Homo sapiens: one gene and its partners. The protein of the gene in region 1 purifies or fractionates together with the protein of each later gene. This does not show direct contact. Each region holds a gene or a part of one and is shown on either strand. Other genes may lie near its edges.

Region 1 (5,812 bases):
CACCACGCCCGGCTAATTTTTGTATTTTTAGTAGAGACGGGGTTTCGCCATGTTGGTCAGGCTGGTCTCGAACTCCTGATCTCAGGTGATCCAACCACCCTGGCCTCCCAAAGTGCTGGGATTATAGGCGTGAGCCACAGCGCCTGGCCTGAAGCAGCCACTCACTTTTACAGACCCTAAGACAATGATTGCAAGCTGGTAGGATTGCTGTTTGGCCCACCCAGCTGCGGTGTTGAGTTTGGGTGCGGTCTCCTGTGCTTTGCACCTGGCCCGCTTAAGGCATTTGTTACCCGTAATGCTCCTGTAAGGCATCTGCGTTTGTGACATCGTTTTGGTCGCCAGGAAGGGATTGGGGCTCTAAGCTTGAGCGGTTCATCCTTTTCATTTATACAGGGGATGACCAGAGTCATTGGCGCTATGGAGGTGAGACACCCACCCGCTGCACAGACCCAATCTGGGAACCCAGCTCTGTGGATCTCCCCTACAGCCGTCCCTGAACACTGGTCCCGGGCGTCCCACCCGCCGCCCACCGTCCCACCCCCTCACCTTTTCTACCCGGGTTCCCTAAGTTCCTGACCTAGGCGTCAGACTTCCTCACTATACTCTCCCACCCCAGGCGACCCGCCCTGGCCCCGGGTGTCCCCAGCCTGCGCGGGCCGCTTCCAGTCCCCGGTGGATATCCGCCCCCAGCTCGCCGCCTTCTGCCCGGCCCTGCGCCCCCTGGAACTCCTGGGCTTCCAGCTCCCGCCGCTCCCAGAACTGCGCCTGCGCAACAATGGCCACAGTGGTGAGGGGGTCTCCCCGCCGAGACTTGGGGATGGGGCGGGGCGCAGGGAAGGGAACCGTCGCGGCAGTGCCTGCCCGGGGGTTGGGCTGGCCCTACCGGGCGGGGCCGGCTCACTTGCCTCTCCCTACGCAGTGCAACTGACCCTGCCTCCTGGGCTAGAGATGGCTCTGGGTCCCGGGCGGGAGTACCGGGCTCTGCAGCTGCATCTGCACTGGGGGGCTGCAGGTCGTCCGGGCTCGGAGCACACTGTGGAAGGCCACCGTTTCCCTGCCGAGGTGAGCGCGGAGCTGGCCGAGAAGGGGCAAAGGAGCGGGGCGGAGCGGGGCCAGAGACGTGGCCCTCTCCTACCCTCGTGTCCTTTTCAGATCCACGTGGTTCACCTCAGCACCGCCTTTGCCAGAGTTGACGAGGCCTTGGGGCGCCCGGGAGGCCTGGCCGTGTTGGCCGCCTTTCTGGAGGTACCAGATCCTGGACACCCCCTACTCCCCGCTTTCCCATCCCATGCTCCTCCCGGACTCTATCGTGGAGCCAGAGACCCCATCCCAGCAAGCTCACTCAGGCCCCTGGCTGACAAACTCATTCACGCACTGTTTGTTCATTTAACACCCACTGTGAACCAGGCACCAGCCCCCAACAAGGATTCTGAAGCTGTAGGTCCTTGCCTCTAAGGAGCCCACAGCCAGTGGGGGAGGCTGACATGACAGACACATAGGAAGGACATAGTAAAGATGGTGGTCACAGAGGAGGTGACACTTAAAGCCTTCACTGGTAGAAAAGAAAAGGAGGTGTTCATTGCAGAGGAAACAGAATGTGCAAAGACTCAGAATATGGCCTATTTAGGGAATGGCTACATACACCATGATTAGAGGAGGCCAGTAAAGGGAAGGGATGGTGAGATGCCTGCTAGGTTCACTCACTCACTTTTATTTATTTATTTATTTTTTTGACAGTCTCTCTGTCGCCCAGGCTGGAGTGCAGTGGTGTGATCTTGGGTCACTGCAACTTCCGCCTCCCGGGTTCAAGGGATTCTCCTGCCTCAGCTTCCTGAGTAGCTGGGGTTACAGGTGTGTGCCACCATGCCCAGCTAATTTTTTTTTGTATTTTTAGTAGACAGGGTTTCACCATGTTGGTCAGGCTGGTCTCAAACTCCTGGCCTCAAGTGATCCGCCTGACTCAGCCTACCAAAGTGCTGATTACAAGTGTGAGCCACCGTGCCCAGCCACACTCACTGATTCTTTAATGCCAGCCACACAGCACAAAGTTCAGAGAAATGCCTCCATCATAGCATGTCAATATGTTCATACTCTTAGGTTCATAATGTTCTTAACATTAGGTTCATAAGCAAAATAAGAAAAAAGAATAATAAATAAAAGAAGTGGCATGTCAGGACCTCACCTGAAAAGCCAAACACAGAATCATGAAGGTGAATGCAGAGGTGACACCAACACAAAGGTGTATATATGGTTTCCTGTGGGGAGTATGTACGGAGGCAGCAGTGAGTGAGACTGCAAACGTCAGAAGGGCACGGGTCACTGAGAGCCTAGTATCCTAAGTAAAGTGGGCTCTCTCCCTCTCTCTCCAGCTTGTCATTGAAAACCAGTCCACCAAGCTTGTTGGTTCGCACAGCAAGAGTACATAGAGTTTGAAATAATACATAGGATTTTAAGAGGGAGACACTGTCTCTAAAAAAAAAAACAACAGCAACAACAAAAAGCAACAACCATTACAATTTTATGTTCCCTCAGCATTCTCAGAGCTGAGGAATGGGAGAGGTCTATGGGAACCCCCCTTCATGTTCCGGCCTTCAGCCATGGCCCTGGATACATGCACTCATCTGTCTTACAATGTCATCCCCCAGGAGGGCCCGGAAGAAAACAGTGCCTATGAGCAGTTGCTGTCTCGCTTGGAAGAAATCGCTGAGGAAGGTCAGTTTGTTGGTCTGGCCACTAATCTCTGTGGCCTAGTTCATAAAGAATCACCCTTTGGAGCTTCAGGTCTGAGGCTGGAGATGGGCTCCCTCCAGTGCAGGAGGGATTGAAGCATGAGCCAGCGCTCATCTTGATAATAACCATGAAGCTGACAGACACAGTTACCCGCAAACGGCTGCCTACAGATTGAAAACCAAGCAAAAACCGCCGGGCACGGTGGCTCACGCCTGTAATCCCAGCACTTTGGGAGGCCAAGGCAGGTGGATCACGAGGTCAAGAGATCAAGACCATCCTGGCCAACATGGTGAAACCCCATCTCTACTAAAAATACGAAAAAATAGCCAGGCGTGGTGGCGGGTGCCTGTAATCCCAGCTACTCGGGAGGCTGAGGCAGGAGAATGGCATGAACCCGGGAGGCAGAAGTTGCAGTGAGCCGAGATCGTGCCACTGCACTCCAGCCTGGGCAACAGAGCGAGACTCTTGTCTCAAAAAAAAAAAAAAAAAAGAAAACCAAGCAAAAACCAAAATGAGACAAAAAAAACAAGACCAAAAAATGGTGTTTGGAATTGTCAAGGTCAAGTCTGGAGAGCTAAACTTTTTCTGAGAACTGTTTATCTTTAATAAGCATCAAATATTTTAACTTTGTAAATACTTTTGTTGGAAATCGTTCTCTTCTTAGTCACTCTTGGGTCATTTTAAATCTCACTTACTCTACTAGACCTTTTAGGTTTCTGCTAGACTAGGTAGAACTCTGCCTTTGCATTTCTTGTGTCTGTTTTGTATAGTTATCAATATTCATATTTATTTACAAGTTATTCAGATCATTTTTTCTTTTCTTTTCTTTTTTTTTTTTTTTACATCTTTAGTAGAGACAGGGTTTCACCATATTGGCCAGGCTGCTCTCAAACTCCTGACCTTGTGATCCACCAGCCTCGGCCTCCCAAAGTGCTGGGATTCATTTTTTCTTTTTAATTTGCTCTGGGCTTAAACTTGTGGCCCAGCACTTTATGATGGTACACAGAGTTAAGAGTGTAGACTCAGACGGTCTTTCTTCTTTCCTTCTCTTCCTTCCTCCCTTCCCTCCCACCTTCCCTTCTCTCCTTCCTTTCTTTCTTCCTCTCTTGCTTCCTCAGGCCTCTTCCAGTTGCTCCAAAGCCCTGTACTTTTTTTTGAGTTACGTCTTATGGGAAGGGCCTGCACTTAGCGAAGAAGTGGTCTCAGAGTTGAGTTACCTTGGCTTCTGGGAGGTGAAACTGTATCCCTATACCCTGAAGCTTTAAGGGGGTGCAATGTAGATGAGACCCCAACATAGATCCTCTTCACAGGCTCAGAGACTCAGGTCCCAGGACTGGACATATCTGCACTCCTGCCCTCTGACTTCAGCCGCTACTTCCAATATGAGGGGTCTCTGACTACACCGCCCTGTGCCCAGGGTGTCATCTGGACTGTGTTTAACCAGACAGTGATGCTGAGTGCTAAGCAGGTGGGCCTGGGGTGTGTGTGGACACAGTGGGTGCGGGGGAAAGAGGATGTAAGATGAGATGAGAAACAGGAGAAGAAAGAAATCAAGGCTGGGCTCTGTGGCTTACGCCTATAATCCCACCACGTTGGGAGGCTGAGGTGGGAGAATGGTTTGAGCCCAGGAGTTCAAGACAAGGCGGGGCAACATAGTGTGACCCCATCTCTACCAAAAAAACCCCAACAAAACCAAAAATAGCCGGGCATGGTGGTATGCGCCTAGTCCCAGCTACTCAAGGAGGCTGAGGTGGGAAGATCGCTTGATTCCAGGAGTTTGAGACTGCAGTGAGCTATGATCCCACCACTGCCTACCATCTTTAGGATACATTTATTTATTTATAAAAGAAATCAAGAGGCTGGATGGGGAATACAGGAGCTGGAGGGTGGAGCCCTGAGGTGCTGGTTGTGAGCTGGCCTGGGACCCTTGTTTCCTGTCATGCCATGAACCCACCCACACTGTCCACTGACCTCCCTAGCTCCACACCCTCTCTGACACCCTGTGGGGACCTGGTGACTCTCGGCTACAGCTGAACTTCCGAGCGACGCAGCCTTTGAATGGGCGAGTGATTGAGGCCTCCTTCCCTGCTGGAGTGGACAGCAGTCCTCGGGCTGCTGAGCCAGGTACAGCTTTGTCTGGTTTCCCCCCAGCCAGTAGTCCCTTATCCTCCCATGTGTGTGCCAGTGTCTGTCATTGGTGGTCACAGCCCGCCTCTCACATCTCCTTTTTCTCTCCAGTCCAGCTGAATTCCTGCCTGGCTGCTGGTGAGTCTGCCCCTCCTCTTGGTCCTGATGCCAGGAGACTCCTCAGCACCATTCAGCCCCAGGGCTGCTCAGGACCGCCTCTGCTCCCTCTCCTTTTCTGCAGAACAGACCCCAACCCCAATATTAGAGAGGCAGATCATGGTGGGGATTCCCCCATTGTCCCCAGAGGCTAATTGATTAGAATGAAGCTTGAGAAATCTCCCAGCATCCCTCTCGCAAAACAATCCCCCCCCTTTTTTTAAAGATAGGGTCTCACTCTGTTGCCCAGGCTGGGGTGTTGTGGCACGATCATAGCTCACTGCAGCCTCGAACTCCTAGGCTCAGGCAATCCTTTCACCTTAGCTTCTCAAAGCACTGGGACTGTAGGCATGAGCCACTGTGCCTGGCCCCAAACGGCCCTTTTACTTGGCTTTTAGGAAGCAAAAACGGTGCTTATCTTACCCCTTCTCGTGTATCCACCCTCATCCCTTGGCTGGCCTCTTCTGGAGACTGAGGCACTAGGGGCTGCCTGAGAACTCGGGGCAGGGGTGGTGGAGTGCACTGAGGCAGGTGTTGAGGAACTCTGCAGACCCCTCTTCCTTCCCAAAGCAGCCCTCTCTGCTCTCCATCGCAGGTGACATCCTAGCCCTGGTTTTTGGCCTCCTTTTTGCTGTCACCAGCGTCGCGTTCCTTGTGCAGATGAGAAGGCAGCACAGGTATTACACTGACCCTTTCTTCAGGCACAAGCTTCCCCCACCCTTGTGGAGTCACTTCATGCAAAGCGCATGCAAATGAGCTGCTCCTGGGCCAGTTTTCTGATTAGCCTTTCCTGTTGTGT
Region 2 (6,946 bases), on another chromosome or scaffold:
AACTCTTGCTACTTTTGCTTTCACAGAATGAGACCACCAGGCCAGTGTCTTTACCTGTGTGCTGTCTGTTTGGGAACTGCCACCTAGAAGCAGTTCAGAAAATATCACACTTAATATCTTTATGAAGCAGTATTTTTTTTTTAACAGTACTACTTTTTTCTTTGTAGAATTCACTCGTGAAGTAACAGACACACAGATGCCACTTGTTGCTCCTGTCATTCTCCCAGAGATGTATAAGATCTTCACCATGGCTGAGGTATGAAATCTCAGCTCCAAGATTATAGTGAGTTCAGGCTCTCTTCAGCCCCCAGCCTTTCAGGTGGGAGATTATGGTGTTTGCAACTGATCTCAATACCTAAAAACTAGAACTGACAAAGATCTGGATCTGAATCTGCATTAACCTTAGACCTTTCACTCAACTACAAGGGCAAGCCTTTGATAAAAGTGTGAAATAGCTGAAATATTTCTTCACATATCGTACTTCCTGGCATCCAGTAGCCCCTAAGTAGATAAATAGTGCCTTCCTTCATGCTACTTCCAGCCTCTTACTGAGTTATCCCACCTACGCTTGCCTACCTCAGCTAAGTAATGGGAAGCAATCTATCACTGCATTGCACATAATAGACCCTTAATATATTGCATATATATTTGATTAGTGTGTATATGAATGATAACTCATTTATAGTAAGGTATAAATACCTGATGGATAATGTTTTAACTTCCCTATTCCCCTCTGCCCCCAACCAATGGTCTGCATTTTAAAGGAAATATATTGGCTGTGTTGGGATTTTAAGCACTACCTAGTCTGGTATTTTTTAATCAAATGAACCCACAGAGGCCCTTATATAAGGTTCATTCCAGTAAGTTCCAACATTATGATTCTGCTACCTTTCATTCTCTGAATTACAGAAGTCTGCCTCCTGGACATAAATGAATTACATTTCCCATTTCTCGAGGGCATCCAATCTCATGTGAGGATTCATTAGTCATAGTTTTACTTCTAGTCTGAGATACACACATACCTACACACTCCAGTCTCGTGGCTATGCTGTTATGCTGTAACCTTTCTTCCAGGTGTATGGTATTCGAACCCGTTCCCGAGCCGTGGAGATTTTTACCACTTGTGCCCATATGATCTGTAACATGGAGGAGCTGGAAAAGGTAAGCAGGTCTTTGGATCAATAACAGACTTCATGCTTAAAAGTTTTATTCATGCAGAGCAGTGAGTCATTTCATGATAGCAGCACGAAAAAGCACACTAACCAGTATTAGAGATAGATTTAACATTTTTATTAAATTATTGTTGTTATTTTTCCAGACAGGGTCTTGCTCTGTCACCCAGGCTGGACTACAGTGGTGCAATCATGGCTCACTACAGCCTTGAACTCCTGGGCTTAAGTGATCCCCTGACCCCCAGTAGGAACTACAGGTGTGGTGTGCACCACCACACTTGGCTGATTTTCTTTTTTAAATGTTTGTAGAGATAGGGTCTCACTGTATTGCCCAGGCTGGTCTTGAACTTCTGGGCTCAAGCAGTCTTCCCCCCTCAGCCTCCCAAAGTGCTGGGGTTATAAGCATGAACCACAACACTCAGCTATATTTGTATTTTTTTTATTTATTTGGGTTTTTTTTGAGACAAGATCTTGCTCTGTCACCCAGGCTGGAATGCAGTGGCATGATCATAGCTCACTGCAGCCTCAACCTCCCAGGTTCAAGCAATCCTCTCACCTCAGCCTCCCGAGTAGGTGAGATCACCAGCATGTGCTACCACTCCTGGCTAATGAATGAATGAGTGAACGAATGAATTTATTTATTTATTTAGAGATGGAGTCTCGCTCTGTCACCAGGCTAGAGTGCAGTGGTGCAATCTCAGCTCACTGCAACGTCCGCCTCCCAGGTTCAAGTGATTCTTCTGCCTCAGCCTCCCGAGTAGCTGGGACTACAGGCACGCGCCATCATGCCCAGCTAATTTTTGTTTTGCAGTAGAGACAGGGTTTCACCATGTTGGCCAGGATGGTCTCAATATCTTGACCTCGTGATCCACCCACCTCGGCCTCCCAAAGTGCTGGGATTACAGGCATGAGCCACCATGCCCAGCCTAATGAATTTATATTTGTAGAGACGGGGTCTCTCCCTATGTTGCCCAGGCTCATCTTGAACTCCTTGGCTCAAGTGATCCTCCCACCTTGGCCTCCCAAAGTGCTAGGATTATAGGTGTGAGCCACCACACCTGGCCTGATTGAATTTTCAACTTGTAAAAAGCTTAGTCTTCTTTTGAGTCTTACTTCTTCAAACACCTTATCCTATATCCTTTTCATAGTAGTCATCCCTTAGAACTTTCCTACTCTTTTATGGCCCTCTTGTGTGAAGCAAAGCTAGCTGAAAAATACCAATCCCTGTGATTCAGAAGCAGTTAGGAGGAAAGTTGGTCTTACATAATAGTTTTTAAGAGGGCTTTGATGAAGAACTGCAAGTGCTGGTTAAGGAAAAATGAAATCTTAGGTAACACCTTCATTGACTTTATAGCTATTCTCTTCTGATCAGGCTTGGAGCCTGAAGAGAGCTTTAGGTGCCTTTCAAATATCAGTGTTTGATATATATGTGTTGAAGCCATGGATTAGGGGTTTGTCCAGTATTGACTTTGGTTTCTGTTATCAGGGTGCAGCCAAAGTCCTGATCTTTCCCGTGGTACAGCAGTTCACAGAGGCCTTTGTTCAGGCCCTCCAGATACCAGATGGCCCCACATCTGACAGTGGGTTTAAGATGGAGGTCCTAAAGGTAAACACTTACTACCAATGAAATATTTGGAGTTTGAGGGGCTGGTCTGAAATCATTTATTTCTTATATATCACTCATAACTTGGGTCCTTTTCTCTTAACTTCTTAGGCAGTGACAGCCCTAGTGAAAAACTTCCCAAAGCACATGGTGTCCTCCATGCAGCAGATTCTGCCTATTGTTTGGAACACCCTAACCGAGAGTGCAGCTTTATATCCTTTCTTGAAAGTTTAAGGGAGCTACTACCACCTATAGTTAGGAATCTCGCACTGGGTTTCACATTCATATGGTTCCACTCTTCTTACACAGGCTTTTTTAAGGTGTCTACTTTTAGTGTTGGAATATGTAACATTTCCATGTAGATTATATGTAAAGCAGACTCCAAATTCTATTTCTTTACTCTTCATCATACTTATGTGAGGACAGAAGTAAATTACACAGAAGAAGTAGAAGATCCTGTGGATTCTGATGGTATGTAGTTTATTTGATCTTTATAGAAATACCAGTTAGTGGGAAAAGAAAAAGAAGCCAGAGATGGGGGCGGGAAACAGTAACTTGAGAGGCTTCACTCTATTAAGTGTTTTCTAATTCAGTTTATTTTCGATGTATTCGATGTGGGGAAATGAGAATTGACAATCTTTAATCTGTTCCACATAGGTAGTTGCATAAATCTCATAAAATCATAGAATTTCTGCATTGGAAGAGATACTTTTAAGGCCATTTAATCTAGCCTACTTCTGGCATTTTGTTGTGTTTCATTTGGGGGTCCCAGATCATGAATCTTTCGTTTCTGTTTTAACATTTCTCATTATTTCAGATTAGAACAATAGACATACTGGAAAATATATCCAGTGTTTCTGATTCTTTTACTTGAAAAACCAAAGAATATTTAATATCCTCAAAATTACGTTTTGTGACCTCTGAGCCCTCTCTCCCAATTCCTCAGGAATGATCATTAGCAAGTACTTTAAATATTCAGTAATTTACAAAGGTTATGTAGTTCATTTTCTGCATATATGCTTTCCTTTTGCTTTCTTGTCATTAATTTCTTCTCTTCTGTATTTCCTGCAGGTGAAGTCCTGGGCTTTGAAAATCTCGTCTTTAGCATTTTTGAATTTGTCCATGCTCTACTAGAAAATAGCAAATTCAAAAGCACTGTTAAGAAAGCCTTGCCTGAATTGATTTATTATATTATCCTGTACATGCAAATCACTGAGGAGCAGGTAAATAATATTTGAGAGACAGTTACCATCTTGTATTTGGAAAGTGCAACTTGAAGAATATGAGGTCTTGGTCAGGTGAACACTTTATTTCTAAAAATAGACACAAAAAGAATAATTTCATGTGAAGTTCTGGGAAAGGTTTGACATCATTTTATTGCCAAATCCAAGGTTTTGGAGTTCACCACCATACCTGGCTTTTTTTTTTTTTTTTTTTCCCAGCAAAGTACTATACTATGTTGCCCAGGCTAGTAGTCTCTAACTCCTGGGCTCAAGCAATCCACCCACCTTGGCCTCTCAAAGTGCTGGGATTACAGGCATGAGTGACTGTGCCTGGCCCACTTTTGCCATTAGAAAATCTCACAGGACCACTAACCTAAGACACTGATTTTTAGGAGAATCTGTTCCTTCCCTAAAGTAAAATGTAATAATCAGACCATTAGCCTGATGGTGGGTCATCAAAAGCAGCAAAGAACGTTCAAAAATTAGATAACGCCTCGTTTAAAACAGCACAAGAATTGACATAATTTTCACAATAAATAGTCTATCAGACTTAATCTATTCAGAAAATCGATCTATCAAAGGGTAACAGCAGGTTGACATTGGCAGAGAGCTAGTAATCAGCCAGATTCTAAAAGAGAGCAATAGCCATTGCTACCTACCTTGCTACTTAATAGTATTTATTTCTCTACATCAAAAAGAAAAGATTTTTTTAAGCTAGAGTTTTTGTTTCAGTTTTTGTTGTTGTTGTTGTTTTGTTTTGTTTGCTTTTTGGGACAGGGTCTTGCTGTTTTGCTCAGGCTGGAGTGCAGTGGTGTAGACAAAGCTCACGGCAGCCTTGACCTCCCAGGCTCAAGCCATCCTCCTGCCTCAGCCTCCCGAGTAGCTGAGACCACAGGCATATGCCACCATGCCCAGTTGACTTTTTTATTTTTTGTAGAGGTGGGGTCTCACTATGTTGCCCAGGCTGGTCTCAAACTCCTGGGCTCAAGCAGTCCTCCCACCTTGGCCTCCCAAAGTGTCAGGATTACAGTTGTGAGCCATTGCATCCAGCAAAAGGCTAGAGTTTTTTCAGGATAATAGGTTGAAATCTTCCTGTATCTGTTGATGAAAAGCTATGAATCAGATTGGCAGCATCACAAAGACATAACTTGATCTTTTCAGATTAAAGTATGGACAGCCAACCCCCAACAATTTGTAGAAGATGAAGATGATGATACATTCTCCTATACTGTTAGAATAGCAGCTCAAGACTTGTTGCTGGTAAGTTTACCTTGATACTTCAGCCACATAATTTCTATCAGTCACTTGAGCATTTCTTCTTTTTTGTAGACAACTAATCCAAGGTGAGCAGTGTTGTTGGGTGGCTTTATCTCAGACTTTATTGGGGATGCAAGAGAGTTTCTGAAATGAAATTCGAGACTCAGAAATTCTAAAATCATTGCTACTGGTTCTAACTTAAAACTAAATATTAGATAAAAGAATTGTGCAGACCATAGGGCCGGGGTGCGGGGGAGAATTGTATAGAGGATAAAGTGTTCCATGGAGTAAGGGTAGTTGAATCAAGAACATTTCAGTTTATGGCTGGGCGTGGTGACTCACACCTGTAATCCCAGCACTTGGGGAGGCCGAGGCGGGCAGATCACCTGAGGTCCAGAGTTCAAGACTAGCCTGACCAACATGGAGAAACCCCATCTCTACTAAACATACAAAATTAGCCGGGCGTGATGGCGCATGCCTGTAATCCCAGCTACTCGGGAGGCTGACGCAGGAGAATTGCTTGAACCCGGGAGGCGGAGGTTGTGGTGAGCCAAGATTACACCATTGCGCTCCAGCCTGGGCGACAAGAGTGAAACTTGGTCTCAAAAAAAAAAAAAAAAGCCATTTCAGTTTAATTCACTCTTCAACAAGAATCTATAGCACAGACAAAAGGTTGGCAAACCTAGCAAAACAAAACAGATTGCTGAAAGATTAACATCCAAATACCTGCTCATGTTTTCTTTGCCTCTTCTGACTAGAGCATAGAGTTGTCTCTAGGCTGAAATACTAAGAAGAAACTGCCACTTGCTTCTTGTTGGGTAGGAGATTTGTTCTCTGTTGATGAATCACTTCTCATTATCATTTAGTATTTCTAAGGAGCTGTGAAAGATTATATTCAGTTCCAATTAGTAGATTAGACTTATTTTTCTATCATCAGTCTCCAAGAGAGCAAATATTTGGTCCATTGTCATCCAAAGCTAGATCTATTATTGCTCACTTATGCTCTGCTGAATATAGCCAAAGGAGCCAACTGGTTAGCCTTACAATGCCTAGGCACTACCGAAATACAGATACTACTTTAATTTCATTAGAGACCCTGACCTACTGGTATAACATTTTTAATACAATTAGGGGTTTGCACATGTATGTGAAAGAGCTTGAACCAATCACTTCTAACAGTCATGACTGAAGCGGTTTACAATTAAAATGCATTTAATGGGCACAAACAGATTTATTAGCTCTTCTCTCTCTATAGGCTGTGGCCACAGATTTCCAGAATGAAAGTGCAGCAGCCCTGGCTGCTGCAGCCACTCGACATTTACAAGAAGCTGAGCAAACCAAAAACAGTGGCACTGAGCACTGGTAAGAGTGAGCCGCTAATTGGTTAAGATGCTTTTGTTTACCCCTTCTTAAAAAGTCTTGAAAGGATGGATTTATTTTTATCTTAATTTGAAAATCTGGTTTTAATTTAATAACAGATTTTAATCTCTTATTATTAAAATTTCACTCTTTTCAGCTATAGGTTAGAATGGAAGGGCTTAAGGTAAATGACTCTTTTGGAAGAGATTGTGCTGGAGTGCCCTTTTCTGAATCTTGTTTCCTCAAATATTTATCTCTTTTGGCAGTTTAGTATGTTTTACTAGGCTGTAGTATCCTTTCACAGGTGGAAGATCCATGAGGCATGCATGCTT
Region 3 (6,946 bases), on another chromosome or scaffold:
TTATATGTTAGAAATTAACCCCTTATCAGATAAATGGTTTGCAAATATTTTCTCCCATTCTTTAGCTATTCCAGAGGTTGCCTTTCTGCTCTGTTGATTGCTTACTTTATGGTGCAGAAGCTTCTTAATTCAATGTAGCCCCACTAATGTAGCTTTTCGTGATATCAATGAAATCATTTCAAAGACCAGCATCTTGAAGCTTTTCTCCTATGTTTTCTTCTAGTTTTGCAGTTTGGAGACTTACATATAAAGTCTTTAATACATTGAGTTGATTTTTGTGTAAGATAAGGGTCTCGTTTTCTTTTGCACGTAGATATCCAGTTTTACCAGCACCATTATTGGAGAGATTATTGTTCCCCATTGTGTATTCTTAGTACCCTTGTTGAAGATCAGTTGACTGTATACAGGAGTTGATTTTCAAATTCTATTTTGTTCCATTGGTTTATATGTCTGTCTTAAAAGAGAGAGGGTCTCACTCTGTTGTCCAGACTCAAGTGCAGTGGCACCATCATAGTTCACAGCAACTACAAACGCCTGGACTCAAAGAATCCTTCTGCCTCTGCCTCCCAAGTAGCTAGGATATATGTCTGTCTTTTGCTAGTACCATACTGTTTTCACACTGTAATATTAAAATATATTTTGAAATCTGGAAGTGTGGTACATCCAGCTTTGCTCTTTCTCTGGATTGTTTTGGCTATTCAGGGCCTTTTGTGATTCCATGTAAATTCTAGTTTTGTTTTTTCTATTTCTATAAAATATGCTCTTGGAACTCTTATACGGATTGCCTTGAATCTGTACGTCACTTTGTTTTTTATTTTTGGAATGATTAAGAAGCTTTTTAAAATTTTTTAAATTTATTTTTATTTTTTTTGAGATGGAGTCTCGCTTTAGTGCCCAGGCTGGAGTGCAGAGGCACGATCTTGGCTCATTGCATGCAACCTCCGCCTCCCAGGTTCAAGTGATTCTGGTGGCTCAGCTTCCTGAGTAGCTGGGATTACAGGCAGGCACCACCATGCCTAGCTAATTTTTGTTTTTGCTTTTTTTTTTAGTAGAGACCAGGCTGGTCTCAAACTCCTAACCTCAGTGATCTTCCCACCTTGGCCTCCTAAAGTCCCAGGATTACGGGCGTGAGCCACCTTGCCTGGCCATTAAGAAGCATTTTGTTGACCTGATGGAACAGGGATATTCATTTAGCAGCTCAGTTTTATATACTCTTTCCCCTGTGTCATTTTACATAATGTGTAAAGTGGGGGGGGGACCCTTTTATTGCAAAGACATTTCCAGAGTCGTCATCTTTTTCTTTCTTTTTGAGACAGTCTTGCTCTGTCACCCAGGCTGGAGTGCAATGGCACAATCTCTGCTCACTGTAACCTCCACCTCCCGGGTTCAAGCAATTCTCCGGGTTCAAGCAGTTCTCCGGCCTCAGCCTCCCAAGTAGTTAGGATTACAGGTGCCCACCACCATGCCTAATTTTTGTATTTTTAGTAGAGACGGGGTCACCACATTGGCCAGGCTGGTCTTGAACTCCTGACCTCAAGTTATCCACTGGCCTCGGCCTCCCAAAGTGCTGGGATTACAGGCGTGAGCCACCACACCTGTCCAGAACCAGGGGCTTTTCTGTGACCAAGGTAACCCCATATCAATTACCCTAGCCCATAGTGTCCTTGGACCTTACTGCTAGGCACTGGCTTTCAGTGTTGCTTTGTACTTCCCTGTCGTCTCCTAATGCCATTAGGCCTGGATAGGGCACCTGCCCTTTAACTTCACAGGTAGATTCCCATCAGAACTACTTTGAAGGCCAAAATGAGCTGGGTGAGAGAGCTGCTTTTTCTCCTGCTCTCCTTTCTTGTGTCCTCATTCTTCCCCACGATTTTTTTGATGTGTTCCATAATCTCCTTATTCATCTTGATTTCTATATCCACCAGGACCTGCTCTTCATAATATAAATAGAATTGTAGGAAGGGTAATGGTATTGTGTTCTTAAACATCATGATCTGCATCCAAGGGTTTTTTGTTTGTTTGAGATGGAGTCTTGCTCTAGTCTTGCTCTGTCACCCAGGCTAGAGTGCAGTGGCGCGATCTCGGCTCATTGCAACCTCTGCCTCCCGGGTTCAAGCGATTCTCCTGCCTCAGCCTCCCGAGTAGCTGGGATTACAGGCACCCGCCACTGCACCTAGCTAATTTTTGTATTTTTAGTAGAGACAGGGTTTCACCATCTTGGCCAGGCTAGTCTTGAACTCCTGACCTCGTGATCCACCCACCTCGGCTTCCCAAAGTGCTGGGATTACAGGCGTGAGCCACCGTGCCCGATCCAAGGGTTTTTTTTGTTTTTGGATTTGAGGTATGTTGAAAAATACAAATTTCCTGCCACTGTCACCCAGCTCCCCATGTGTGTTATAATTCACTCTTATGACCTTCACCAAGTCCCTGAACACTACTACATCACCCTGGTCTGGGTATTGCAGAAGGGTAAGGGCCCCTTCATAGGTGGTGGCAGTCAAACACCAAAGAGAGGTAAGAGAACAGCAGACATCACTTCTCGGCAGATTGCTTTGGGTAGCAAAGACATTTTAACAATATTAAGTCTTCAGTCCATGAACACAGCTTTCAATGGTGTTTTTTTGTTTTTTATTTTTATTTTGAGACAGGGTCATCCACTGTCGCCCAGGCTAGTGTGCAGTGGTGCGATCTTGGCTCACCGCAACCTCTGCCTCCCGGGTTTAAGCAATTCTTCCACCTCAACCTCCCAAGTAGCTGGGACTACAGGCGCATGCCACCACACCTGGCTAGTTTTTGTATTTTTGGCAGAGATGGGGTTCCACCATGTTGGCTAGGCTGGTCTTGAACTCCAGACCTCAAGTGATCCGGCCACTTTGACCTCCCAAAGTGCTGGGATTACAGGCATGAGCCACTGTGCCCAGCCTCAATGGTGTTTTTTTGAAGTTTTTATAATGCTGTTTTTTTCAAAAATAAAGATTTCACATGAGTTTAAAAAATGAATTTAACTCATTTTTAATGAATTTGTGATCTCTTATTTCACAGTATACCACCTTTAGAGATATTAATGACTTTCTTGGTTATCATTTGATATGTAAATAAACTCATATTTTAATGAAAATAATAAATTACTATTCTTGTGATCTTAGTGCTCATCAAAAGTAGAACTTAGACCATTCAGTTTACAGCTAATCTTCCAGATTGCTAAATGAAATAAAATTATTTTTCTATTTAGTAATTCATTATGAAAGATAAGGAACCTCAGTTTTCCCTTTTTCATATGCCTTATGTCTGACAACACATTTTGCACAATATTCTCTATTAGAATTTTCTTTTCTTTTGGTCTAGCTCTGTTTGGTTATCCCTCTTACTAGATGTGAGCAGCCGTAGCAATGTAGTTTTTGTCCCATTCACTCCTCTCAGGCATGAATCCACCTTGTCTAGGAGAGCTATGTTCTCAAAAGTGAAAGCAGCCTGTTTGACAAGTACTGACATTTGAAAATGCTATAAACCTCTTGTGGTGAGATACTGTTTGAATTAATCTTGATAAGTTAAATACCATGAATTTGAAGCAACCTTAAATTCCTTTGACAGATAAATGGATAAACAAAATATGGTATATACATACAATAGAATATTAAGCCTGATTTATAAAATAATCCTGTCATATGCTATAATGTGGATGAACCTAGAGGACATTATGCTAAATGAAATAAGGCAGTTATTAAAAGACAATGCTCTATGATTCCATTTGTTTGAGATATCTAAAGTAGACTCACCAAAGCAGAAAGTGGTGGTTGCCAGGGGCTGGAGTAGGGGAAAATGGGGAGTTCTTCAGTTAAGAGGCAAAAAGCAAGCTTGTTTTGCAAGATGCAAAAGTTCTAGAAACCTGTTGTACAACAGTGTGCATGTAGTTAATGCTTACTGTACTGTACATGTAAAAGTGGTTAAGGTGATAAGTTTTAAGTGTTTTTAACTACAGCTTTTTTAAAAAAAGAGCTGGGCACAGTGACTTATGCCTGTAATTCCAGCTTCTTGGGAGGCTGAGGTGGGAGTGTCCCTTGAGCCTAGGAGTTGGAGGCTACAGTGAGCTATGATCACACCACTGTACTCCAGCCTAGATGACAGAGCAAGACCATCTCTTAAAAAAAAAAAAAAAATTAAAAAAAAAAAACTGGATACGAATTACAATGGATTTAATACAAATACATTTGTTCTTTTTCTCCCTCTTTTCCCCACCCCCCAGGAGTTTTGTCAAGCGCTTCAGCAGCCTGATGCTAAAGTTTTTAAAAATTACTTAAAGGTAGGTATTTGTGAAGCTCACGTATCTTCATACAATTAGGTAATGTTTGAGAGCCAAGAGAGAATACATACCTGCAATTATAGATGTTTATGTGAAGTCCCTTTTAACTAAGCTCTTGAAAAAGAGTATAAGTTAGGTAAGCACACTGAATGTGTACACCTTTGAGTATATTGGTGAGAAAATGCCAGTTTTCTTTTACAGTTTCATGATGTAATTAAATAGAAACTAGAGGGATTAGGAGAATAAGAAATGTTCAAGAACAGTTGTCCAAATTAAGTTGAAAAGAAGGGGCTAAAAATATAAAAACAGAAGGATGAGATATTTGCTTATATCCTATTTTGAAACATTTGAACTGTAAAACAGACAAAAAGGAGAATCCTCAGATTTGGGCCATCAAGCCTCCTTTTACATTTACGAAATTACTGATTTTTTTTTTTAACTCTGTAAATCAACAAAAAGTGTCACGTGTTTATTTGGTATTCATAGTTATAATTGAGTTCATGAGATGAAACTGTCTTGGTCTTACCTAGGTAGTCATTCATTTCATACATAATGACTGCTTTTTATGTACCAAGTACTACAGTAATGGCTGCAAATACAACTATGAGTAATTTTCCCTCCCCATAAGGAGCTCATGATCTAGAAATAAAGTTACAGTGTGACAAGGTGAATTATTTTTTATTATCTTCACTCAAATAATTTGAAGACAAAGCACTGTATTAAATTCAGTAGCAGGTAACTTAGTGTATCACCTGGTTCTTTTAGCAAAGACATTCAGTAGAATTTGTAAGTCAGAGGGCTTTGCGCAGTAAATAATTTAAGTGTGCCATCCTTTGACTGTGGTTCTAACATCTTCCCTTGTCAGTTTTTTCTTAGTTGTAGTTTGTCAGCTTAAACATCTCAGAGTTTTTGTGGAAGAATATTGAGGGCTTGTTTTTGTTTATCATTGGGAACCCTCCCCTTCGCCATCCTCCCATAAAAAAGCAAAGTGCCTACAGGAGTAACCCCTGTTAAATAACTGATCAGTCAAACTGAATTTAAGGACTCAGTCCTCACTATCTGTTAGAGGTGTCTGTAACAGTAGATCTAGGTACCCTATAGAAGGCTTGTTCTCCAGATGTGGTTATTTATCTGCATAGCATTTATAAAAAGTCTTCCTTCTGGGCCCAACTTCTCTTCAGTGATGACATTATCTTAGTGATCATAATTCTCAGTGTTAGCATTATTATTCTAGTTGGAAAAAATGAATTTCATTCGTGTTCACTCCTCCCTTCACATCTGATTGATCCTCAGATCTTGCAGATTCTTTCCTCATCTTCTCTCTCTTCTGTCTCTGCTGCTCTGGTGTAGGCTGATGTTATCTTACTCTGATCTCTCTTCTCTTGTTCTAGCCAGGCTGATGTGTTTGAAAACTTCAAGCAGTCCTTTGATATTTATTCACCTTCCTCATAACCTTCCTGAACAAATTCATGTTTCTCAGTTTGGCACTTAATTTTTTTTTTTTTTCATATTCTGCCCTGAGACTACCTTTCTGTTTTTTCTTGCAGAAATGGTCTTTACTGTTCTTGTAGTTCTTCAAAAATCCTGCCTTACTAGCAGCCCAACTTCTGTATGAACTGTACCCATTTCTCTAGGTTTGCCTTAAGCACAGCCTCCTTGTAAGGTTTTCTTTTGCCTATATAGTGATCATTCTTTCCCCTGCACATAGTAGATTATCTATTAAATGAATCTCCTAGGTACTAGGGCACTATCAATACTGTTCTTGTCTGTATTAGTCCATTTTCACGCTGCTGATAAAGACATACCCGAGACTGGGCAATTTACAAAATAGCTTTATTGGATTTACAGTTCCACATGGCAGGGGAGGCTTCACAATCATGTCGGAAGGCAAGGAGGAGCAGGTCACATCTTACGTGGATGGCAGCAGGCAAAGAGAGAGCTTGTGCAGGGAGACTCCCATTTTTAAAACCATCAGATCTTGTGAGACCCATTTACTATCAGGAAAACAACATGGGAAAGACCTGCCCCCATGATTCAATCATCTCCCACCCGGTCCTTCCCACAACACATAGGAATTATGGGAGCTACAAGATGAGATCTGCGTGGGGACACAGGGTCAAACCATATCATTGTCCTTACTGAGAACACTGAATTATGTCTGGTGCTCACCTGACCTGCCATGGATGGCAGCATGTAGTACTAGGCCATGCCTAGCACAGCCTCTAGCCAACTCCTTTGTAGTCTCAAATTTTGACTTGGAAGTACTTTTGAATCATCAAATAAATAGTAAATTCCTTACAGAGTTAGAACTGCTATGTTTAGCTTTGACTTGTTTCCTCCTCAATATTTAATTTTTTTTTTTTTGAGACGGAGTTTCACTGTTGTTGCCCAGGCTGGAGTGCAGTGGCACGATCTCGGCTCACCACAACCTCTGCCTCCCAGGTTCAAGTGATTCTCCTGCCTCAGCCTCCCGAATAGCTGGGATTACAGGCATGCACCACCACACCCGGCTAATTTTTTCTATTTTGAGTAAAGACTGGGTTTCTCCATGTTGGTCAGGCTGATCTCAAACTCCTGGCTTCAGGCCTCGGCCTCCCAAAGTGCTGGGATTACAGGCGCCGTGCCCGTCCTCAATATTTAATTTAC
Region 4 (5,923 bases), on another chromosome or scaffold:
GGAAGGATTCGGGGGCAGAGGTTAAAGGTGATTTAGTAAGTTTGAGCTGTGGAATACTAGCAGCATTGAGGCCCTTTAAGCTGGGCTTTGAAGGGTGAAAAGGTGTTTACCATTAAAACAGGGCTTCATGGTTGAAAGCTTCAGAAAGACCTGGGTGTCTTTTTTGTTGTTTTTTTTTGAGACAGGATCTTGCTGTGTCACCTAGGCTGGAGTGCAGTGGCACAATCACAGCTCACTGCAGCCTCGACCTCCTGGGCTCAAGCGATCCTCCCACCTCAGCCTCCTGAGTAGCTGGGACTACAGGCGTGTACCACCACACCTAGCTAATATTTTGTATTTTTTTGTAGAGATGCGGTTTTGCCATGTTGCCCAGACGTCTCAAATTCCTCCTGCCTCGGCCTCTCAAAGTGCTGGGAGGACAGCCATCATGCCCAACCTACCTGGGTTTTAAATTCCAGTTCAGCCACTTACAAGCAGTGTATCCTTAACCTGTCCAGCTCAGTTAATTAACCTGCCCAACTCAGTTTCCTCATCTGTCATTAAATGGGATCAGTAACATTTACTTTTTTTTTTTTTTTTTTGAGATGGAGTCTCGCTCTGTCACCCAGGCTGGAGTGCAGTGGCGCGATCTCAGCTCACTGCAACCTCCACCTCCCTGGTTCAAGCAATTCTCCTGCCTCAGCCACCCAAGTAGCTGGGACTACAGGCACGTGCCACCATGCCCGGCTAATTTTTTTGTATTTTTAGTAGAGGTGAAGTTTCGCCATGTTAGCCAGGATGGCCTCAATCTCCTGACTTCATGATCCGCCCGCCTTGGCCTCCCAAAGTGCTGGGATTATAGGCGTGAACCACTGTGCCTGGCCAGTAACATTTACTTCTGATGGCATTTGTGATGCTTGAATGAAACGTCATCAGTCAAGCAGTCAGCACAGTGCCTGCCACTCAGACAGTGCCTGCTCAGTAGATTATAAGAATAATTGTTCTTATTGCCACTGTTATCACTTGGGGGAAATGACACTGCAGGCTGAGCAAAGGCATGGAGACTTGAGAGTATAAGGCACGATTTGGGGCTGGCATGGATTGTGGAATAGAGATGTGGGGTTTGTAGCAGAAGCTAGAAGAGGTGTCCTTACACCCTGGGGCCATATCACCAACCTTCATCCCTCCTGCAGGTGGAGATGGGGCCCTTTAAACATACAGTGGACGATGGGCTGGACGTGCGGAAGGCGGCCTTTGAATGCATGTATTCACTGCTTGAGAGCTGCCTGGGCCAGCTGGATATCTGTGAGTTCCTGAACCATGTGGAGGACGGGCTGAAGGACCACTACGACATCCGGGTAAGACCAAGCCCCCTGCCAGATCTATGTGCCCCTGTACCAAGGGATAGTCGGGCACCATTGGGGCCATGCTTGTTTGTCCTTGCTCCCTACTCCAGGCACCCAATGAAAATAGCTGCATTGTTGTTTTCTGATAAGAAAAGGAACCTGTGTCTCAAACACCTTTGGTGGGAGTCTACACTGGGCAGGCTCTTTGGAGGATGGTTTCACAGCAACCAGAAAAAAAAAATTGTCCAGGTGTGGTGGCTTATGCCTGTAATCCCAGCACTTTGGGAGGCTGAGGCAGGAGGATGGCTTGAGCCCAGGAGGTTGAGGCTGCAGTGAAACATGATCACACCACTGCACTCCAACCTGGACGACAAAGCGAGACCCTGTCTCAAAAAAAAAAAAAAAATTCCCAGACGAAATTTTTGACCCTGCAGGGCACTTTCAGCTGTGGAATACTAGCAGCATTGAGGAGCGAGCTGCATCTCTTCGTGTTGTGACCTGAAAGAGCTCCAAGCCCCAATGTTGAGTGGCAAGAGCTAGTTCCAGAAGTTAGGACCATTTTCTTAACAGACAGAGTGAGTCTGGGGCTGGTGGAGACGTCGGTTTCTTCAATTTATATCTTTCTATATCATTTTTTTAAATGTTAAAGTTTATTCACATATATGATAGAAATCATTTAATTGTGGCGAAATATTAATAATACAAGTTACTATCTTCAGTAACTTACTATCTGCAGGTGAAGTGTTTTTTTTTTTTTTTTTTTGAGACAGGGTCTTGCACTGTCACTCAGGCTGGAGTGCAGTGGCTTGATCTCAGCTGACTGCAACCTCTGCCTCCCAGGTTCAAGCGATTCTCCTGCCTCAGCCTCCCAAGTAGCTGGGACTACAGGTGCCCACCACCACACTCAGCTAAATTTTTTTTGTATTTTTAGTAGAGACGGGGTTTCACCATATTGGCCAGGCTGGTCTCGAACTCCTGACCTCAAGTAATCTGCCTGCCCTGGCCTCCCAAAGTGCTGGGATTACAGGTGTGAGCCACTGCGCCAGGCTCCATCTTCACTATTTTAAAGTGCACAGCACAGTGGCAGTAAGCACATTCACATTGCGGTGCAGCCGTCACCACTGTCCATCTCAGAACTCTTTTCTCCTTCCCAAACTGAAAACTGCACCCATTCAACACTCTATGAATTTGACTACTCTAGGTTTCTGCCCTTGTAAGTGGAATCATACAGTATTTGTCCTTTTGTGACCAACTTGTTTCACTTAGTCTGATGTCCTCAAGGTTCATCCATGTTGCAGCATGTCAGAATTTCCCAGTGTTGTATGTACAGACCACCAGTTTGTTTACCCATTCATCCATCGCTGGACAAATATTTGGGTGTTCCCAGCTTCTGGCTATTATGAGTAATGCGACTGTGAACCTAGGTGTTCCGATATCCTTTGGAATCCTGCCTTCAGTTCTCTTCACTTTACCCAGAAGTGAAATTGCTGGATCATACGGCAATTCTGTGTTTAATGTCTTAAGGAACTGCTATACTACAACTTTATTTTTAAGTTTTTATTTATTTGTTTGAGATGGAGTCTCACTTTATGGCCCAGGCTGGAGTGCATTGGTGCAATCTTGGCTCACTGCAACCTCCGCCTCCCGGGTTCAAGTGATTCTCCTGCCTCGGCCTCTTGAGTAGCTGGGATTACAGATGTGCACCACCACGCTCGGCTAATTTTTATATGTTTTAGTAGAGACAGGGTTTCGCCATGTTGGCTAGGCTGGTCTTGAACTCCTGACCTCAGGTGACCCACCCACCTCGGCCTCCCAAAGTGTTGGGATTACAGGCATGAGCCACCACGCCCGGCCCCATATTACAACTTTAAAAAATATGTACTGTAAGCGTGAGTCACTTTTTATAAGGAAAAATTAATACAAAGTAATCAAAAGTAACCCATACTTGTTTTAAAAGATTTACACAAGATGAAAGCAAATAAAGAAGCAAGTAATAATCACCCAAAAGCTTCTCCACACCCAGAGAGGCCTGCTGTCTCAGTGTGTTTCTTGGGATGATGCACATAGACCCTCATTCATTAGTCAGCCAGTATTAAGTGAGTGCCAACACGCCAAGGTCAATGTGAGAGGTGGGGTCCCTGTTCTCAAAGCTGTGGAGATGAGTTTATGAGACCTGTTTTCTAGAAATGGGATCACACACATGCTGTTTTTTTCCCCAGCCTTTTAACTTACATTTACTGTATGTTGTTTGCTTTGCTTTTCAATATATATCAGTCCTGTCAACAGCTGCAGGAGTTCCCATTTCTGTTGCACTCACTGCTACACATGTATGTTATTTGCACATTTTCACAATTACAGACAATGCTGCTGTGAACACCCTGGTGCATTACTGTGACCCACGGTGTGATCGGTGGGCTTCTAGGGTGGAGTGCATGTTCCTGCTAAAGCATCCGATGCGCGTGGTGAGGCTGCACCTCCTGCAGCGGGCGTGCCTCTGACCACTCCAGACTTGGAGTTCCTGGGACGCTCCTTCCTGCACTTCCTGTCTGCCTGTCTCCCCCTCGGCTTTATTATTGCTTTAAACTCTTGCTTCCTGCCAACCCCCAAGAAAGAGAAAAGAAGAAACAACATAAGTTCTCTGGGATTCCAGCCCCAAGATCTTGGTTGAGAAAGGGGGTTGGGTTTTCCAGTGTATGCCATGCAAACTAGTGGAAAATGATGGGGCGCACAAAGCTGAACAGGACTTTCCACCACAGGGTTCCGGGAGGCTCCAGACGGGAGGGGTGTACTCAGCTTCCATCATCTGGGTGTGCCTGGTATTAGGCATCTTGTGGGGCTACTGACCCCAGGACACAGAGTGAGGAGTTCTGGGCCAGCCCAAAGCTCCACCTTGTGGGGATTTTTCTCCAGGATCGAGCAAGTCTGTTTCTTCCATCCAGTCTGGCCATATCCTCTCATGCCTGCCCTCCAGGAGCGCAGGACAGGGCCTAGGCACCAGTGCAGCCTTGGAGTCCACTCTGCTGCCACCCCCTGGGGTGAGGAGGGTGGGTGTTACAGCTATAGAGCCCACAGCTTTGCGTCATCAAGTCTTCAAGTGAGCCTTTAGAGAGGGAGTGAACACCGCCCAGTTCACAGGGGAGACGGAATCTTGTCTAGTTCTAGGGCACAGGGTCATGGAGTAGCCAAGAGTCATAGCTCCTGAAGTCCAGCACCGCTGCTCCTTGCTGCCGTGGGCTGGGCCTCCTCCTTTGCTGTGGGGCTTAGGGGTCAGGGTGTGGAGATGGGTAGGGCGTGGGGATTTCAGACAACCAGTCTTTATGGTGTGCAAGGCTTCTTTGTGAGGACTTGACTATTTTCAAAAGACAGGACAATTATTCCCCTACAGGCTGAATCTAGGCCTGCAGCCATGTTTAGTTGTTGTTAAAAGTTTTTGTTTGGTTTTGAAATCAGGTGTCAACATTTAAAAATCGAGACTTTTTTTTTACATGAAAATTGGGATTTCTTTTGAAAACAATCCAGTGGCCCCAAGCTACATGTTTGCACTCCCACCTGGCCACACTCAGCCAGAGCTGCCCCAGCAGCCCCCTTCACTCATCCCCAGCATCTGCCTGACTGGTGGGCATCTGAGCTTGAGAACGACTCCCTCCCTGGTGCTTTTCTGATCCTCCTTGGGTCATCCAAGTGTAGTTGGCAAAGAAAGTGTCACCATTTGAGGAAACAGACCCAGAGAGGGAGAGACTCTGGCAGGACTTCACGGTGGTCTGAACTTGGGCTTCAGGTTTCAGTTGTGGGGCCTCTGCTCTTTCCCAGGGCTGGCTGCTGCTCTTGCTCCTGCACCATTTCACTAAGAACCATCTCCTTCCTCTGGGCAGATGCTGACCTTCATCATGGTTGCCCGGCTGGCCACCCTGTGTCCTGCACCTGTCCTGCAGAGGGTGGACCGACTCATTGAGCCACTAAGGGCCACCTGCACTGCCAAGGTAAGTCCCTGGCCCAGCCCTAGCCCAGGCCCTGGAGCACCTATGGAGTCCTCGGCCAGTCGTTCAGTTACCCTTACTGAGCACTTCCTGCAGTGCAGGTGATGTTGTGAAAGTGCTTCATTTAATCATTGTCATTGCCCTATAAAGTACCTCTTATTATCATTGTATACACAGGGGAACAGAGGCTTTGAGAAGTTGTTATTGGCCAAGGCTACACAGCTAGTAAATTGCAGAGCTGGATTCAGACCCACCTCTGTCTCTCCTTCCATTCATTAAACACTTCCTGGGTGCTGAGCCTCGTGGGAGATACTAAAGATGTAACATTGAGCCTGATAGGTTCCCTACTGTCAATCTCTCACCTCCTTGTTGGGAAGCTGGGTCAGATGACTGGTCTAGGACAAAGCTGCTGCTAGACTGGAGTGCCTGAAGGGTCTGGAGGAGGGATGTGGGGTGCAAGCCCTCATGGAAAGCTGGCGTTGGGAGCAGAGCCTGGCGCACCTACGTGGTACCTAGTAAATACCTGTTGAATGAAAGAATACATTTGGGTTTTTTAAGGATGGGAATCATTACCAAAAGGAGAGCAGTGTTTTAGGTTGGCACTTAAAGAGGAGAGATACC
Region 5 (6,007 bases), on another chromosome or scaffold:
TCTCTTAGTGACAAAGACTAGAATTCTTAAATTCGCTATCAGGTTTTTTCCCATTAAACTTGCCTGAGTTTATTTCCCAGTTTATTCTTGAAATGTTTATATAATTTTTTTGAACTTCAGAGTTATTTTAGAAGCTATTTTGTAGTAGCAAAATAAAACTTGTGTTAAACTTATTTTTAATAATACAAAACATTTTTTTTAACACATCACAAATTATTTATAAGGTATTTAGAGCATTCTGTTGTTTGGCCCTTAAAACAATCCTGAGAGATGAGCCCAGTATTTTTTTTTTCTAATTTATGTAGAAAGAAACTAAAGAGTTCATATATAAGATTGGCTGGTTTTCTTCCTACTGAATTTAAAAGGCCATTGATTTTAGTGAACACATAATCATATTTCTCCTTATAAATTTCACTTACTAAGGTTTTCTTCTCATTTGTCAGTAATCATCCAATTGTTCTTGGCCCAAACAATACCAATCTGCCCAAAATATTTAGTATAATTGCGGAAGGAGAAATGCACGAGGCAATTAAACATGAAGATCCTTGTGCCAAACGTCTGGCCAATGTCGTTCGCCAAGTACAGGTAAGCTGATTTGGTTGAATTGGGGAGGGGGAGATAAAACCTTTTTTTCTTTGTAGTCCTCTATGAGAAGAAACTAGAAATCTAATGAGCTAAGGAATTTTATTTTTATATTTTCATAGTCTCTTGTCTCCAAGCCTCAAATGGATTATACTTAATGTAATCCATCCGTATGTACTTATTATTTATTAGAATTAAAACCTTCATCTTAGGACATTTTGAGCTTACCAGTTGGTGCTTAACACAAGCTTATGTGTAGTTTTTCTGCCTATCTTAAGAAAAAAAAACAAGATTTAATAATAACTTGTCATCTGCCAAAAAACTTTATATGATTTTTACTTCCTATATTCATGTGGTATATGGGTTACTTTAAGATGTTACCTGCTTAGTGTAGCTTTTTCAGTGCAAAAATGAAGAAAACTTACTGGAAATGAAATGAACTTTAAAAAAATGAACAGATTTCTTGCTTTTACAATGATACTCATCAAAATAATGTACCTAGGGAGAAGGTATTTTGCCATGATTACAGTTTACCTATGATGATGATTAAAATCCTTCCAAATGAGCATTTCGTCCTAAGTCTGTGAAAATGTTTCTTTCCCTAGACTTCTGGAGGACTGTGGACTGAGTGCATAGCACAGCTCAGTCCTGAGCAGCAGGCCGCCATTCAGGAGCTCCTGAACTCTGCGTGAAGGGCCTTAATGTCACCCACCAGAAAACTAACTCCAAATAAACGCTTACCCTTTCCTTTAGGTTTCTTTGTTTTGTTTTTGAGCAAAAGAGATCGGTAGTGTTGTGTGTAGGCCATTCTTCTGGAGAGCCACAAGCAGGAAGAGCAGCGCTGTGTTGCAGAATGGAGTTTCCATGGATTTCTACCAGACCACTGAAGGAGTTCCTGGAAGCCCTGCGGTAGCTAGCACTGAAGACTATTTTTCTATTGGTATAACCCGCCCACCTGAAGGGGAAAGGGAAATCAAATTAATTTTTCTCGTTAGACATAAGGAAATTTAAGGAAAAACAGCTTTAAGAACAGTTACTCAGCGTAGATGTGTGTTCACACAAATTGCTCTGCATTCAGTGTTCATTGTGAATTGGGAGTGTGAGTCTTTCTGTAGGGTAGAAAGAAGCCTCCTACCCAGCAAACCAGTAGACCCAAAAGTTGAAAAAAACTGATGACAGACAACAAGCATGAAGATGGCATATTTGATGTCACTTTGGTTCTTTTTCCCAGAAGGCTTATACAGTGACTCAGTCGGGAAGCTTTCCAGCTTCCAGCCCTTGAATGTGAAGTGTCATTGGCATGTCTGGCAGTAGTCTCTCATTCACTCCTCAATAAACAACATTGAATACAAAAGAGGCTTGTGTAAAAACTCAGTACTGTCTGGCTTGGATTCATTTCATGTTTTTAATATAAGAATGATCTAATATTTTTTTAAAGTAATAGCTATCAGTAATAGCTGAGTGTTTTTTCCCCTAATATTTTCCTTGTGCAATTCAGACTTAAGCATCGAGTTTTTACCATCTTCCACTTTAAGCTAAGTTATGATACCTATTCCATTCACAATTGGTGTTCTTTTTAAGGTTTGCAAATTTCAGCCAATTTTGTAGCTAAGATTGTTCTGATCAGCTCAAAAAGATTTGGCTTAGTGTTTTCATTGCAAATTATAATTGCTGTAGAGCCACACACAACTTTTGAACTTTTAATTATAAGTGTTATGGCTAAAGTTATTTACTGAAAATTTCAGTAAAATGTGTGAATGTTTCTTTATGTATTAACCTCATAGCAGTAAATGACTTGCTGTTGTTTAATTTTTCTAAGGCATCTTAATAGACTTCTGTTGAAAACTTCAGTGTTAACATTTTTATAGTTTGTACTAAATTTAACCGTGATATAAAAATGAATTTTATGCATAGATCAGAATTTTAAATTAAAGGTTTTTTCTTTAAATGATTTGTATTACTTTATTAAAACTAAATCTGAAATGGAATAGAAAATAGAATGGATTACATACAGATGGTTTCCTTGTTAGCAGATGCCCTTCAAATATATTTTACGTTTGCAGCACAACACCATTGCCCGGAGGCTTCCGAATCTAGCAAAGCAGCATATTAAATGACTCCACCTGCGCAGTCCTTGTGTTCAGTGGATGAATACCTGTGGGCTCTTGTAATGTGTGGTAATATTTGGAGCTTTATAGCCTGTATTCCTTGGGAGAAAAAAATGGGAATTGGAGTAAAAAGTGTGTCAAGACAACCCCTTTCTGCTTTCTTATGTAGCATCTGCAAAGCCGATTCATGTACTGATGCCAATCAGCTAGAGCAATGTAGGCTTTTTTTAATTTAAATTATTACTACACTTTATTACTACACTTGCAGAAAAGAAACATGTTAAAATCATGGCACACCTGCAGAATTTCAGATGACAGTGTGGTCAGAAGATGTTTTTTGGGAGAACCTAGTGTTTGCTGGGCACTATGCTAAGCACTTTGGGAGCAAGAACCTCCTACCTTCCAGTTTAAACACTAGTGGTATTGTCAGATGCCGTTAGTATCTGAGATGTACTTACAGCAGGGTTCTAAGAGCTCTGAAAGAAGCGCTCTGTTAGATGCAGACTGGCAGCATCCTCCTTGATAAAAGCAGAAAAGCAAAGAGGTAATTGGAGTTGAATCAAGTTAATAGGGAAGGTTGGTAGTAAATGCTGTTAGTGTGACATGATTCTGAAACCCAGAGCTCAGAACTAACTGTGAGATGTACCATGAACTAACAATTCTTTGAAAGGACCTGCAGAAGCATTTTTAATACCTCATTCTGTCTATGCAAGATGAAAATCCATGGAGTTTTTTCTTGGCTTTTGTACCAAATTTAGGGGTCTTGCATGTCAGCAAGTGATATATATTGTTTATAAATGCAAGCTATTTCTGGAGGGGAAAAATGTGTGTGGCTCTTACGTTTTCTGGGAATTTTGTAACAAGTTACACGCACAAGTGTTAGAAACTTTGGCATAACTCAATTTGGAGTATTTTTTAAATGCTGTATCTTTAAAGAAAAGTAAAATTGTCTTAAATCTAATTGACACTTCTGTAATGAGAGGCAACCTTATAACTCTGGAGTTGTAGTTTGACAGAACCATCAGTAAAGACATAAGCAAATAAATGGTCTTGGTGCACCTGGTCTGATAATAAATAAGGGGGGTGCTTACTTACAGTCTTGCAAGCATTATATTTTTATGATCTAATCTTTTGAGTGAGTGCCTGTTTAAGCAACGTGAAAGGCTAAGGAGCTAGCTAAATGTTTTAATAACTGCTTCATTCTGCCTAGGAGGATTGTTGGGTCAGTTTTCTCTGCTGCACAGAAATCACTTTGCAGGTCGGGCGCGGTGGCTCACGCCTGTAATCCCAGCACTTTGGGAGGCCAAGGCAGGCGGATCACCTGAGGTCAGGAGTTGGAGACCAGCCTGGCCAACATGGTGAAACCACATCTCTACTAAAAATACAAAAAGTAGCCAGGTGTGGTGGCAGGCACCTGTAATCATAGCTACTCCAGAGGCCGAGGCAGGAGAATCACTTGAACCTGGGAGGCAGAGGTTGCAGTGAGCCGAGATTGTGCCATTGCACTCCAGCCTGGGCAACTGGGTGAGACTCCATCTCAAATAAAAATAAAAAAAAAAAAACGAAATCACTTTGCTTCTCTTAACCTTCTTTGCCACAAAAGATTAACAGCCAAAACCTGCCATGTTTGCTATTCCTAAGCAGATTTTCTTTCTCGGCCCTAAAAGTATGAGTACCACTATTAGAAGAAGAAAGTGAATGATCCACAATGTATGCACATCACACTTGGGAGGAAGCATGAATATTTATTTCCAGCACTTGGAACTTCTGAATGGTGGTGCTGAGGAGCAGGGGTTAATTCTAACAACATCCTGCCCTAGACTTAAACCCTTTTTTCCCCACACAGCTGTAACCCTTACAGTGTATGCCAGACAACATTTGGGCTGATTATTTCTATGTATTTATTATATTTGGATGAATACAAACATTTTAAAGATAAATTATAGCTATATTATTCACTTCTCAATGAATCCAAAAGTGGTACAATATAATTTTTTGTAAAACATTACAAAAAATTTTTTCTAAATTCCACTAAGGCAGCAGAGTATAATTATGAAATCTGTTCTTTCATGATTCAGGAGCTTTCATTGTGTATTTCCTTTTGATTGATCTATCATTTCTGTCCTCTTGACTAGCATTCAGATTGTAATGGAAACCAGAATAGTGCCACTTGATATGAATCAGAAATTAGTTCCCCTATTTCCCCTAAAAGTTTTGTAACAGATGGGTAGAAAATGTAAGAGTTTGGATCAGCCCGACAACTTGCTCCTGTGATCCTAAGGTGCACCATAAAAGACCATGGTGCTGTATGGTTAAGACCAGAGGTTGGCAAATGTGTTCTCTAAGTTCGAGATAGTAAATATTTTAGCACTCGTCACCGAACAAGTATGTGTTTGCAAGTTATAGGGTCTCACAAACTGCTTAGCCGTTGCAGTGCGAAAGCAGTCATGGACCATAGTAAACAAACGGGTTTGGCTGTATCCCAGTGAAACTTGACAAAAGAGGCTAGCCATAGCTGCTGACCTCTGAATCAAATCACTGTGTCAGTTAAAAAATCCCAGTCTACCATGTACTCAGCTTACCTAACCTCTGTATGCCTTAGTTTCCTTCTCTGTAAAATGGGAACAATAATAGTACATACCTTATAGAGGGTTCAGATGGATTTAGAAGCCAGGCACATTAAGCATTAGCTATCAGAATTACACCTAAATTCTATTAATACTTACAGATAATTTAAGCAAACTTTTTTTTTTTTTTTTTTTTTGAGATGGAGTCTCCCTCTGTCACCAGGCTGGAGTGCAGTGGCGCGATCTCGGATCACTGCAACCTCTGCCTCCCAGGTTCAAGTGAGATGCCTCCCAGGTTCAAGTGATTCTCGTGCCACAGCTTCCCGAGTAGCTGGGACTACAGGTGTGAGCCACCATGCCCAGCTAATGTTTGTATTTTTAGTAGAGACAGGGTTTCACCATGTTGGTGAGGATGGTCTCTTGACCTCGTGATCTGCCTGCCTCGGCCTCCCAAAGTGATGGGATTACAGGTGTGAGCCACGGTGCCCAGCTGCAAACTTTTTTTTTTTTTCAAGTTCTCTAATCAGCCTTGGCATTAGGAGGAAGCCTAGAAAGTTGTGGAAAATATTGGGAAACTTTGCAAAGTCAGTGAAGTTGTGCCATAAACGTGGTGTATGTGGACTATTTTACTTTCTTGACACTGTGATTCTGGTGTTTGAAGATGCCTGATCTGCATAAGACATGGCCCTAAATGCACCCATTGCCTCATCTGGAGCTCCACCCTAAAAAGCAGCAGTCTGTCCCTGTTTG

The links.
Region 2: the proteins of CA9 (region 1) and IPO9 purify together in Homo sapiens (affinity purification with mass spectrometry, with the first as the bait; one study listed by BioGRID). This does not show direct contact.
Region 3: the proteins of CA9 (region 1) and XPOT purify together in Homo sapiens (affinity purification with mass spectrometry, with the first as the bait; one study listed by BioGRID). This does not show direct contact.
Region 4: the proteins of CA9 (region 1) and CAND2 purify together in Homo sapiens (affinity purification with mass spectrometry, with the first as the bait; one study listed by BioGRID). This does not show direct contact.
Region 5: the proteins of CA9 (region 1) and IPO5 purify together in Homo sapiens (affinity purification with mass spectrometry, with the first as the bait; one study listed by BioGRID). This does not show direct contact.

Annotation. Positions count from the first base shown.
Region 1 is NC_000009.12:35,675,145-35,680,956, forward strand, and holds part of CA9 (carbonic anhydrase 9 precursor), read left to right. Parts: intron 1-393; coding exon 394-423; intron 424-616; coding exon 617-787; intron 788-919; coding exon 920-1,062; intron 1,063-1,152; coding exon 1,153-1,245; intron 1,246-2,532; coding exon of another isoform or gene 2,533-2,547; exon of another isoform or gene 2,548-2,645; coding exon 2,646-2,712; intron 2,713-4,040; coding exon 4,041-4,198; intron 4,199-4,709; coding exon 4,710-4,854; intron 4,855-4,968; coding exon 4,969-4,995; intron 4,996-5,608; coding exon 5,609-5,690; intron 5,691-5,812. UniProt on the Homo sapiens protein: Catalyzes the interconversion between carbon dioxide and water and the dissociated ions of carbonic acid (i.e. bicarbonate and hydrogen ions).
Region 2 is NC_000001.11:201,851,937-201,858,882, forward strand, and holds part of IPO9 (importin-9), read left to right. Parts: intron 1-167; coding exon 168-256; intron 257-1,074; coding exon 1,075-1,161; intron 1,162-2,658; coding exon 2,659-2,778; intron 2,779-2,886; coding exon 2,887-2,987; intron 2,988-3,187; coding exon 3,188-3,246; intron 3,247-3,846; coding exon 3,847-3,998; intron 3,999-5,159; coding exon 5,160-5,258; intron 5,259-6,510; coding exon 6,511-6,617; intron 6,618-6,918; coding exon 6,919-6,946. UniProt on the Homo sapiens protein: Nuclear transport receptor that mediates nuclear import of proteins, such as histones, proteasome and actin. Serves as receptor for nuclear localization signals (NLS) in cargo substrates.
Region 3 is NC_000012.12:64,440,832-64,447,777, forward strand, and holds part of XPOT (exportin-T), read left to right. Parts: intron 1-4,243; coding exon 4,244-4,300; intron 4,301-6,946. UniProt on the Homo sapiens protein: Mediates the nuclear export of aminoacylated tRNAs. In the nucleus binds to tRNA and to the GTPase Ran in its active GTP-bound form. Docking of this trimeric complex to the nuclear pore complex (NPC) is mediated through binding to nucleoporins.
Region 4 is NC_000003.12:12,826,268-12,832,190, forward strand, and holds part of CAND2 (cullin-associated NEDD8-dissociated protein 2), read left to right. Parts: intron 1-1,172; coding exon 1,173-1,337; intron 1,338-1,759; coding exon of another isoform or gene 1,760-1,822; exon of another isoform or gene 1,823-3,332; intron 3,333-5,197; coding exon 5,198-5,305; intron 5,306-5,923.
Region 5 is NC_000013.11:98,020,549-98,026,555, forward strand, and holds the end of IPO5 (importin-5), read left to right. Parts: intron 1-443; coding exon 444-585; intron 586-1,187; coding exon 1,188-1,274; 3' UTR 1,275-3,748; downstream 3,749-6,007. UniProt on the Homo sapiens protein: Functions in nuclear protein import as nuclear transport receptor. Serves as receptor for nuclear localization signals (NLS) in cargo substrates.